Linked DNA regions of Homo sapiens. The protein of the gene in region 1 purifies or fractionates together with the protein of each later gene. This does not show direct contact. Each region holds a gene or a part of one and is shown on either strand. Other genes may lie near its edges.

Region 1 (4,299 bases):
TCCTTATGTAACTTGCGTTAAGATCACACAGCTTTTTTTTTTTTTTTTAGTAGAGATGGGCTTTTGCCTCGTTGCCCAGGCTGGTCTCAAACTGCAGGGCTCAAGCGATCCCCCCGCCTCACCCTTCCAAAGTGCTGGGATTATAGGCGTGAGCCACCATGCCCGGCCACATAAATAACTTTTTTTTGAGATAGAGTTTTGCTCTTGTTGTCCAGGCTGGAGTGCAATGGCGCAATCTTGGCTCACTGCAACCTCCGCCTCCCAGGCTCAAGCGATCTTCCCGCCTCAGCCTCCCGAGTAGGTGGGATTACAGGCATGTGCCACCATGCCCAGCTAATTTTGCATTTTAAGTAGAGACGGGGTTTCTCCGTGTTGGTCAGGCTGGTCTCGAACTCTTGACCTCAGGTGATCTGCCCACCTTGGCCTCCCAAAGTGGGATTACAGGTGTGAGCCACTACGCCTGCCCTGACATAAATAATTTTTTTTTTTTTTGAGACAGAGCCTCACTCTGTCGGCCAGGCTGGAGTGCAGTGGCATGATCTCGGCTCACTGCAACCTCCACCTCCCTGGCTCAAGCAGTTCTCCTGCCTCAGCCTCCGGAGTAGCTGGGATTATAGGCGTGTGCCACCATGCCCAGCTAATTTTTGTATTTGTAGTAGAGACGGGGTTTCACCATGTTGGCCAGGCTGGTCTTGAACTCCTGACCTCAGGTAATCCGCCTGTCTCGGCCTCCCAAAGTGCTGGGATTACAGGCGTGAGCCACCGCGCCTGGCCAGTAATTTTTAGAGGTAATACTAACGTATTTATCTACCATTAAAGACCCAGGAGAACTTAGTAGCTGGGAATCCCACTGGTTCTCCCAACTGAGGTGCAATATTATCTTTACCGTCTTTACCTTACGGTAGCGGATATAGTGTTAATAAATGATTAGAATACTGCTTTATGAGCAGGAAATACTGTAATGATTTTCACCCTATCAGAAATAATAAAATGTTTTCTGCATCAGCAGATATTTTTCATCATTTGTTGGTGTTTAAAAATGTTTTCAGAATTCTGAAGATACCATTATCTGTAGTTTAGGAAAACTACGACTCACTTTAAAAGAAAAAAAGTTTTCTTTAATTGCCTGCCCTTAGAAAAGATGGTTCCACAGAACACACTTCCGGTACTCGAGATGAGGACTTCCCTTGAACGCCCATTCTGTAAGACAGATAACGCGTTGGCCCTTAAGAAAGATGGCATCTTTCCGCCTTCTCTGCCCCCTTCCAAGATGGCTGCCCTAATGTACACTTGGGACCTTGCCTGGCGCCTCTTCCGGGCTTGGCAGCGGGCGGGGTCCATTGAGTAAAGCCTTGCGTGCCTGCGCCCGCGACGGAGGCGCGCTTCAAAGCGCAGGCGCGGGGAGGGGGTGGGGGAGGAGGGAAAGCGGCGAGTAAGATGGAAGATGAGGAGGTCGCTGAGAGCTGGGAAGAGGCGGCAGACAGCGGGGTAAGGAGGAGCCGCCGTCCCATGGCAGGGCCGGGCGAGACCTGGCGTGAGGGGAGCCTCCGGGGAGCGGGTCTGGAGATAGTTCTCCCCAAGGAAGGGCCCCATACGCCGGGCTGGGGGTGGTGGAGAGGCCCCCAGTTCCTGAGCGCCGTGAAGGCCTCTTAAAGGGGCCGCGATCCATTTCTCTCCTTTCCTTTGCCTGGTGCGCCTCCCTCCGCCCACTAACGCGCGCGTCACCCGGGGCGCCCCACCCGCCACCCGGGGCCTCCTTTCCTGACCCCCCGCGCCCACTTGCTGGCCGTGGGCCTCTGTGACTCTTTCCGATGAGCCTTGTGGCCCGAGGCACCATTTTAAAGTTCTTGTGCTCTGACCGGGACGGACACACCATGTGGGTGGTGGTGGGGCTTGCGCGGACCAAGGAGGCATGTCCGGCTTCGCAGGAAAGCGGGAGGAGGCAGCCGAGGGCGGGGGGAAATTGAATCCTCTTTGGGCTACTCAACTCTGCTAAAATCCCCCACCATCCGTCACGGTGGACGAGTCGGGTTTTTTTTCTCTTTCACTTTTACTCCAAGAAGAGTTTGTGGGCAGGCAGGCAGGTCTCACGGGGACTCTGCCAAAGCAACCGAAAGCTCTGCGGGGCAGCTCCTCTGCCACTCAGCGATCCGAGGCCCCGGGAAGGTCTAGGAGTTCGCTTGTCGGAGTCCAGGGTGTGATATGTAAAACAGCCACATTCTTGGGAGAGGAGTGGGGAGATGGACCGTTCGACTTGTTTTTGGAGTTTTTGTTTGCCTCCAGAAACTGTAGGAAAATAGTTTATCTCAAAGAGGATCTGTCAATTCTCTTAGATTTGTGAATAATTTGGTCTTTTCAGAGTTTGTCTGTGGTGACCCTTGTGAATATGGGGAGATGCTTTTTTTGTCTCCCCGTGTTCGCGTCTGTTCAATGCTGGCTGCACTGACATCCACCTTAAAGGTTTACGTGTGCGAGGAGTCGAGCGTACCAGGGTAGAGTAGGCGCTGGGTTTTTTTTCCTAAGCGCTTTTTGGGGGTGCTTATGAGCTCTGGAAGAGGCCGGGAAATTGACCCTGGCAGCAGTCAGTGGGTGTATCTAGCTCTACGGGAATGTTGAAACTTGGCTTTGAAGTTTTTTCCGCTGGTTCAGCATTTCTCTCAACGGTTGTTTATGTTTTTCCATTTAGCATAATTGAGAATTTGAAGGATTCGTTCGTTCAGAGGATATTTAGTAGAGTTCTTAATGTGACAACCATCTTTCTTGAGTTTTGGCTTAAGAAAGTTAAAGATTTTATAGGGAGTAACAGGTGTCAGTTGGCTCCTTGTTCATTCAACCAGCATTTTTGAGTGTCTGCTATATGCTAGGCAGTGTGCTTATCAGTGACTTTGTGCCAGAAAATGCAACATTTTCGGTACAGGCGTTTATTGCCTACCACTAATCTGAGTGAATCATCCAGACATCCCTATAAAAAAGCTTGGCTTACAACTTTAATATCATGCAAATGATACGTTTCTTGGGCATCTTGGCCTTTCTTTGGTTTTCCTCACCTGTTTCAAAGGGTCATAAATCCCTCATGTTAGAGAAGTTGGAGGCAAATGAACAAAAATGAATAGGATTCAGCAGAAATTGGGGCTTACTTTAGTTTTTCAGAATGGGTAAGTCAATTAGAAATAGCTAGTACAGTCCCCCATTTAACAGCTGAATAAGCCTAGAGATGTGAGATTTAGAGACTTAGGTCTTTCTGACGCTTGTCGCGTGTTCTTTCTTTTTTCTTTTGGTTCCCAAGTTTTATTGAAAAACTTATACAAAATATTCCAGATAAATGAAATTTAATCCTCATCTTCCTCCTCTTTGTCCTGGTTAATCTGGAAGTAACATAATTTGTAGCTATCTTTGCTGTTAGTAACTAGGAGCAACCAATCACGTAAATTATTCTTCATATATGTTTTGGTGAGATATTTGAAATACCTTTTGGAGAAAGGCACCTCGGATGTCACGTTGATCTTGCTCTTACTCCTTTCAATGGTCGCCATCCCTCCACCAAGGTTCTCAGCTTTTCCGTTCACTTTGATCCTTTCTTGCAAAAACTGCTCAAAATTGGCAGCATCCATGATTCCATCTTCTACGGGGTGAGTGCATTCAAGAGTGAACTTCAGAACCTGCTTCTTTTTTTTGCCCCCCTTCACCACAGGCTTTTTCACAGAAGCCATGGCAGCAGCGGAGGCAGAAAGCCAGAGTTCTTTCTGCTATCCCTTACTTTAGTAATATCCTTTAAAAATGTACCGCGGCCAGGTGCTGTGGCTCACGCCTGTAATCCCAGCACTGTGGGAGGCTGAGGTGGGTGGATAACCTGAGGTTAGGAGTTCCAGACCAGCCTGGCCAACATGGTGAAACCCCATCTCTACTAAAAATACAAAAATTAGCTGGACCCTATGGTACATACCTGTAATCCTAGCTACTTGGGAGGCTGAGCCAGGAGAATTGCTTGAACCTAGGAGGCGGAGGTTGCAGTGAGCCGAGATCATGCCATTGCACTCCAGCCTGGGCAACAAGAGTGAAACTCCATCAAAAAAAAAAACAAAAAAAAAAAACTACAGAGGTGGAACACAAACCTTGCCTTATTGACATCATGAACACTTCTGCCAAAATGCAGGTTCTCTAATATATTTTATTTAATTGAATCCTTGAAACAACCTGTTGAGGCATTGTCCCCCTTTTATAGACAAGGAAACGGAGGTTTCGAGAGTAACCTGTTTTGCGCAAGATCACACAGCTGGGGGAAGCTGGGATTTGATCCCA
Region 2 (3,649 bases), on another chromosome or scaffold:
GTAGTCTGAGATAAAACTGGAAAGAGAAATTCTGGTAAGCAGTTTACAAGTATGCTACATGGATTCTTTGCAATTAGAGCGGAGTGAATGACCACCTGAGGTCAGGAGTTTGAGACCAGCCTGGCCAACATGGTGAAACCCCATCTCTACTAAAAATACAAAAATTAATCAGGCGTGGTAGCGCATGCCTGTAATCCCAGCTACTTGGGAGGCTGAGGCAGGAGAATCGCTTGAACCCAGGAGGCGGAGGTTGCAGTGAGCTGAGATTGCGCCACGCACTCCAGCCTGGGTGACAAGAGTGAAACTCTGTCTCAAAAAAAAAAAAAAAAAAAAAGAAAGCCACAAAATTAATGCGGCAAACCGGCCAGGTGCGGTGGCTCACGCCTGTAATCCCAGCACTTTGGGAGGTCGAGGCAGGTGGATCACCTGAGGTCAGGAGTTCGAGACCAGCCTGGCCAACATGGTGAAACCCCGTCTCTACTAAAAATATAAAAAATTAGCTGGGCGTGATGGCGCCCACCTGTAGTCCCAGCTACTCAGGAGGCTGAGACACGAGAATCGCTTGAACCTGGGAGGCAGAGGTTGCAGTGAGCCTATATCGTGCCACTGCACTCCAGCTTGGGCGACAGAGCATCTCAAAAAAAAAAAATTCAGTAAACAGTAAAAGAAAAAAGTTAAAAAAATTATGACAGTCTTAATCTTTGTTTTTTTTTTCGTTTTTTTTTTTGAGATGGAGTCTCGCTCTGTCGCCAGGCTGTAGTGCAGTGGTGCGATCTCGGCTCACTGCAGCCTCCGCTTCCTGGGTTCAAGCGATTCTCCTGCCTCAGCCTACCGAGTAGCTAGGACTAAAGGCGTGTGCCACCACGCCCAGCTAATTTTTGTATTTTTAGTAGAGATGGGGTTTCACCATGTTGGCCAGGATGGTCTCAATCTCTTTACCTCATGATCCGTCCGCCTTGGCCTCCCAAAGTGCTGCGATTACAGGCGTGAGCTACCACGCCCGGCCCTTAATTTTAATTGTTAAAATTTGATAAAGAAGGTGGGTAGTAGACATATCAAATGATCATTATATTATTTTCTGTGTGTTTGAAATATTTCACAGTATTTTAAGATGAACCTAAAATAAAACATTAAAGAAACTCCATTAAACTAATGAGCCTATAAAAATATATATCCCACTGGGCATCTGTAATGAAAACATGCTAATACTCAGCAAGCTTACTGATTTTTTTTTTTAAGCCGTTAAATTTCAGGCATCAGATTTCAGTCTTCTCTTTCCAAGCACATAGTACAAGCAGGCTCTTTCATCCCACACTCTTTTTTTTTTTCCGAGACGGAGTCTCACTTTGTTGCCCAGGCTGGCTCGATCTCAGCTCACTGCAACCTCTACCTCCTGGGTTCAAGCAATTCTCCTGCCTCTGCCTCCCGAGTACTACAGGCATGCTGAGAATACAGGCATGTGACACTGTGCCCGGCTAATTTTTGTGTTTTCGGTAGAGATGGGGTTTCACCATGTTGGCCAGGCTGGTTTCAAACTCCTGACCTCAGGTGACCTGCCCACCTCAGCCTCCCGAAGTGCTGGGATTATAGGCATAAGCCACTGCGCCCAGCCCAAATTCGTATGTTATACAGAATTTTCTGATTTATAAATGTGGGCAACTGATCGTAAAAAATTGTAAAAAACACTGTGACCTCTACAGAATCTGGACCCATAAATCTGTTTCTACATCTGGAAGGGAACTTGAGAGTCTTCCACGTTCAATGCCTTCATTTGACAGATGGGGAAAGTGAATCCCAAAATGTTTTGCATTTTTTGTCTTTTATGCAAGAAAGTCTTCCCTACCTTTGATCCGTAAGGCTGTTCATCTCTATATTCTTCTGTAAATTGTATGGTTTTGCTTTTTCACATTTAGGTTTATTGACAGTGCGTATTTTTTTCTGCTTAGTTTATCTTTATTTTTTATTTATTTATTCATTTTTGATTTTTGCACTGTCGCCTGGGCTGGAGTGCAATGGCGTGATCTCTGCTTACTGCAACTTCCACCTCCTGGGTTCAAGTGATTCGTCTGGCTCAGCCTCCCGAGTAGCTGGGATTACAGGCGCCCGCCACCATGCCTGGCTAATTTTTTTGTATTTTTAGTGGAGATGGGGGTTTCGCTATGTTGGCCAGGCTGGTCTCGAACTCCTGACCTCGTGATCCACCTGCCTCGGCCTCCCAAAGCATTGGGATTACAGGCGTGAGCCACCGCGTCCGCCCTATTTTATCTTTAATATGATCAGCTAGTATTTGTGTTACATATTCTTTTTCTACCATTATGTTTGTCATAAAATTATGCTCTATAAATTCATAAGGACAGGACATGCTTTTGTTATGCTCTGATTTTGGGTCAGAATATTGTAGAAAATGAAATTTTTGAATTCATTTTAGTGTAAATATTTTACAGATTTCTGCTCTTCTACATTATTTTGTCTCATTTGCCTTTAAAGATGAGTAGTACATGTATTTGACTATCCTTGAAAAATATTTTGCACACTTTTTATAGCAGTCATATTAGAATCTAGTTAGGCATTTGTGTATCTCTATCTAGTTTGTTTGAGAGCTGCTAAGTAAACCAGCTAGAATAATAGTGTGTAGATTGAAATAGCTCAAACATTCTGTATCAAAATTATAAGAATTTTAAGTTATTTTAATAAGCATTTAACAGTATCATGCTGTGTAAATAAGACCAAGCTGTGGCTTGGAGAGTAAACATTAAAAGTTTTTTTTTTTTTTTTTTTTTAAGATGGATTCTCACTCTGCCCCCCAGGCTGAAGTGCATTGGTGCAGTCTCAGCTCACTGCAACCTCTGCCTCCCGGGTTCAAGCAATTCTCTGCCTTAATCTCCCGAGTAGCTGGGATTACAGGCGCCCACCACTACACCTGGCTAATTTTTTATTTTATTTTATTTTTAGTAGAGATGGAGTTTCTTCATTTTGGCCAAGCTGGTCTTGAACTCCTGACCTTGTAATCTACCCGCCTCAGCCTCCCAAAGTGCTGGGATTACAGATGTGAGCCACTGCAACTGGCCTTTTTTATTTTTTTAAGGTGGAGTCTCTCTGTGTTGCCCAAGCTGGAGTGTAGAGGTGCGCTCTCAGCGTACTGCAACTTCCGCCTGCTGGGTTTAAGCGATTCTCCTGCCTCAGCCTCCCTAGTAGCTGGGATTACAGGTATGCGCCACCATGCCTAGCTAATTTTTGTATTTTTAGTAGAGACAGGTTTTGCCCTGTTGGCCAGGCTGGTCTTGAACTCCTGACCTCAGGTGATCCGCCCACCTCAGCCTCCCAGAGTGCTGGGATTATAGGCGTGAACCACCGCCCCTGGCCTAACATTAGAATCTTTCACAAATCTGGTCAGTAAATGCCTTTTTTTTTTTTTTTTTGAGACGGAGTCTTGCTCTGTCACCCAGGCTGGAGTGCAGTGGCTCCATGTCAGCTCACTGCAGCCTCCATCTCCCGGGTTCAAGCTGTTCCTCTGCCTCAGCCTCCCTAGTGCTGGGATTACAGGCATGTGCCACCACGCCTGGCTATTTTTTTGTATTTTTAGTAGAGACGGGGTTTCACTGTGTTAGCCAGGATGGTCTCGATCTCTGTACCTTGTGATCCGCCCGCC
Region 3 (3,649 bases), on another chromosome or scaffold:
AAAAATACAAAAATTAGCCCAGCATGGTGGCGTACGGCTGTAGTCCCAGCTACTCAGGAGGTTGAGGCAGGAGATTCACTTGAACCCAGGAGGCGGAGGTTGCAGTGCGCTGAGATCGCACCATTGCACTCCAGCCTGGGCGACAGAGTGAGACTCTGTCTCAAAAAAAAAAAAAAAAAAAAAAAAAGGAATATTTGAAGTCTTACTGTTTCCTTCCACCTCCTGAATATGCTTAGCACAGGTCCACACTGAATATTTAGTGAATTAATGTCTGTTATATTAACATCAAATTGGGTTCCACAAATGAATACGTATCCCTACATTAGAATATCTAATCCTGAAAGCCTGATACCACAGGCTGACAACAACTATCCCAACACTTTAGGAGATGGATAGTAGAGGTCAGAGAGATTGAACAGGATGGCTTCTGTCCTGGTGTCGTTTAATATTTTAGTTATATAGTAATTTGTCTTATGTTTCATTTCACATGTAGGGAATTCCAAATGAAAGCTGGAGAATAACAAAGATAAATGAACGATATGAACTTTGTGATACATACCCTGCCCTCCTGGTTGTGCCAGCAAATATTCCTGATGAAGAATTAAAGAGAGTGGCATCCTTCAGATCAAGAGGCCGTATCCCAGTAAGTAGGAAGTTTGGATGAGCCTTTGCAAGTGCTTTTTTACTCAACATAATGCTGAGATTAATGAGTAGGAGAATGGATTCAGGATATAAATAGCTACAGCAGCAGGTCTTTCATGGGGATATTGGAGATTGATTTATTTAGTAAAGTTAAAACTGGAAGAAAGACTTAAAGAGGCTTCCAGAGAGTGTGATATGGGTATTAGATAACTGCACAGAATTGCATGATTCTTCACTGAAAAAGTTTGCTGTGTGTATTAGTCACTATTTATTTATCTTATTGTATATTCTTTAGTCATGATGATAAATGTTCTTTTTTTTTTTTAAGTCCTAGAAAGAACACCTTACAGATTTATAACTGGATCTTAGAAAGATGAGCTTAAATAATTTTAGGTACAAAATTCATAGATTCTAAAGGCTTTTAGAACTGAGCAGTTTTACTAATATATTAAGTGGGGTTTACTTAGCCCTGTTTCACAGTATTTTTTTCAGGAGATAACATTTCCCAATAATCAAATACTTTCCTAAATCAGTATCTGACTAAAGAATTAGACCAAGTTTTCCACATCCCAGAATTGGCTTGAAGGAAAGGTGATGATTTTTCTTAGCAGCCTCAGATGTCCTTTCATGGCCAGGCTTTGGATCCAATTAGAAAGCAGAGCTTTACTGAGTACTGTTTTTGAGAATTATAAACAGAGAAGTATGTAAAAGGTGTGTTACCATTTTTTCCTCATTAAGGTTTTATCATGGATTCATCCTGAAAGTCAAGCCACAATCACTCGGTGTAGCCAGCCCATGGTTGGAGTGAGTGGAAAGCGAAGCAAAGAAGATGAAAAATACCTTCAAGCTATCATGGATTCCAATGCCCAGTCTCACAAAATCTTTATATTTGATGCCCGGCCAAGTGTTAATGCTGTTGCCAACAAGGTCAGATGGTCTCTTAGTAATTATAATTATGGTTTCATGAATCAGCTGAGTTTGGCAGGGCCACAGTGTAGTAAAAAGAGCTCAGGCTCTACAGTGGTAAACATATAGGTTCTTGTCTTGGCTCTTCAACTTGATGGTGTGATTTTGAGTTAGTTATTTAACCTCTTTAGACCTCAATTTGTTTATTGGTAAAAATGAGAATAATAATAGTTAACAGTGTTGTTTTGGGAGCAAAAATCATTTAATAAAAAATAATGCATAAACTTTTGCTTACTTACATAATAACTAGGTGTTCAGTTATTCTTAGCTTCCCACTTCTCCAAAGTTGACAACTAACTGAGCTTATGACTCACTGAAGTCCCTGTATAGTACTGCTCTAGGAATAGCGAACTAGTGTTCTCGGTGACTAGTGGTGCCCTCTTCTGACCGTCCTCCACCTGAACAAGTTATTCAGACTGAAGAATTGGCAGTTAGCTGTAGCTGATTGTTCCAGCAGAATAAATATTAGCATTGTGGAAATTGAAATTTTGGTTCAGTTGACCAAATCTATAGGAGGAGGGAAGGAGAGAGAAGACATAACTACAGCAGCAGGTACCATTACTGAAAAGCGCTCATCTTTTCAAGTGTACATTTCAGTGCTTTTAGTATATTCACAAAGTTGTACAACCATGCCACTACCTGAATCCAGGGCATTTTTATTCTATGTGTTTCGGTGACAGGTTCTGTATAGTTGTTACCACTGCTGTCTTTCTAGAATGTTGCAACAAATTTGAATTGAAAGTTCCTGTCTTATTCCCACTCTTCAGAAGTAATCTTTAACAGGTATCCCTTGAAATACTGTAAATTCTATAATTGTGCCAAACGATTTCCCAGACTCTCAGTGTCAGAAAGGAAGCTGAACTTCTGTTCTTTCAGTAGTTTGTTGCTGGTTATGAGTTGGTGGTTTTGTTGTTTCAAAGGTGTGGGTCATATAATCACTTAATTTTGTATAATTTACTGCTCCAGTATTTTCCTAATTTGTTTCTATTAGGGCTCTAAGAAGTATAATTTTACACGAGTTAGGTAGGAGATAGAATATTTTATTCATGAAATATAAAAAGATTAAGTCCAGAAAAATAAGGTTCTTCTTTCTAGCCATAGCTTATTTTGAACACCAAATATTTTCTCATTCTATTTTGTAGATGTAGATTTAAGTCTTTGAGAACATTGATGATGATAGCATTCTGTGCTTTTATCCTTGTTCTGTCTTTTTATTTAAAGAGAATTATGTGGTTAAAAAAGAAGCAGGTCATTTTGATTGCAAAGAGTTTATTTCTCAGATATGAAGATTAAAATGAGGTGAAGAGGCAGGGAGGTGAAGAAGCATAGGTGAACCAGACATGTGGTCTCAGCACATGAAACTTACAGTCTGGTAATTTCAGTATATATGAAAGGAAGTCATCTGTAAGAACTTATGTTTGGGTAGGACTTGGCGTATGGGCTGGGAAAATTTAGTGCTTTACAGTGTTTAAATACCTTCCTATGTGTTTCATATTTAATTTTAATAATGGCCATATGGGCAAGTCAGACTACGTATATATTCATTTTGTAAAGAAGAACACAAGAAAGCGAGTGGTTGTGCTAAATAAGTTGTCCTGAGCCATCCACATTTTCCTGTGGAGTTTTCCTTGTCTCCAGTAATATGTATCATCTTTTATGCTATTGGATATTTTATGTCACTTGTTTACAGATGTGCATTCATTTATGATTTTCCATGATGTGTGCTTTTTTCCAGGCAAAGGGTGGAGGTTATGAAAGTGAAGATGCCTATCAAAATGCTGAACTAGTTTTCCTGGATATCCACAATATTCATGTTATGAGAGAATCATTACGAAAACTTAAGGAGATTGTGTACCCCAACATTGAGGAAACCCACTGGTTGTCTAACTTGGAATCTACTCATTGGCTAGAACATATTAAGGTGGGTGTGTGTTACTATATCCCAAACAAAGACTCTCTCTACCCCTTTGTTTATATTAGCTTTTTACTTATAATTGCAATCAACATGAAGGTACCTTTCTAAACAATGAAAAATGGGTAA

What was found.
Region 2: the proteins of SZRD1 (region 1) and NT5C2 fractionate together in Homo sapiens (co-fractionation; one large-scale study listed by BioGRID). This does not show direct contact.
Region 3: the proteins of SZRD1 (region 1) and MTMR2 fractionate together in Homo sapiens (co-fractionation; one large-scale study listed by BioGRID). This does not show direct contact.

Annotation. Positions count from the first base shown.
Region 1 is NC_000001.11:16,365,821-16,370,119, forward strand, and holds the start of SZRD1 (SUZ RNA-binding domain-containing), read left to right. Parts: upstream 1-1,421; 5' UTR 1,422-1,437; coding exon 1,438-1,488; intron 1,489-3,272; exon of another isoform or gene 3,273-3,731; intron 3,732-4,299.
Region 2 is NC_000010.11:103,186,683-103,190,331, reverse strand, and holds part of NT5C2 (cytosolic purine 5'-nucleotidase), read left to right. Parts: intron 1-3,085; exon of another isoform or gene 3,086-3,207; intron 3,208-3,649. UniProt on the Homo sapiens protein: Broad specificity cytosolic 5'-nucleotidase that catalyzes the dephosphorylation of 6-hydroxypurine nucleoside 5'-monophosphates.
Region 3 is NC_000011.10:95,847,594-95,851,242, reverse strand, and holds part of MTMR2 (phosphatidylinositol-3,5-bisphosphate 3-phosphatase MTMR2), read left to right. Parts: intron 1-493; coding exon 494-643; intron 644-1,380; coding exon 1,381-1,569; intron 1,570-3,343; coding exon 3,344-3,529; intron 3,530-3,649. UniProt on the Homo sapiens protein: Lipid phosphatase that specifically dephosphorylates the D-3 position of phosphatidylinositol 3-phosphate and phosphatidylinositol 3,5-bisphosphate, generating phosphatidylinositol and phosphatidylinositol 5-phosphate.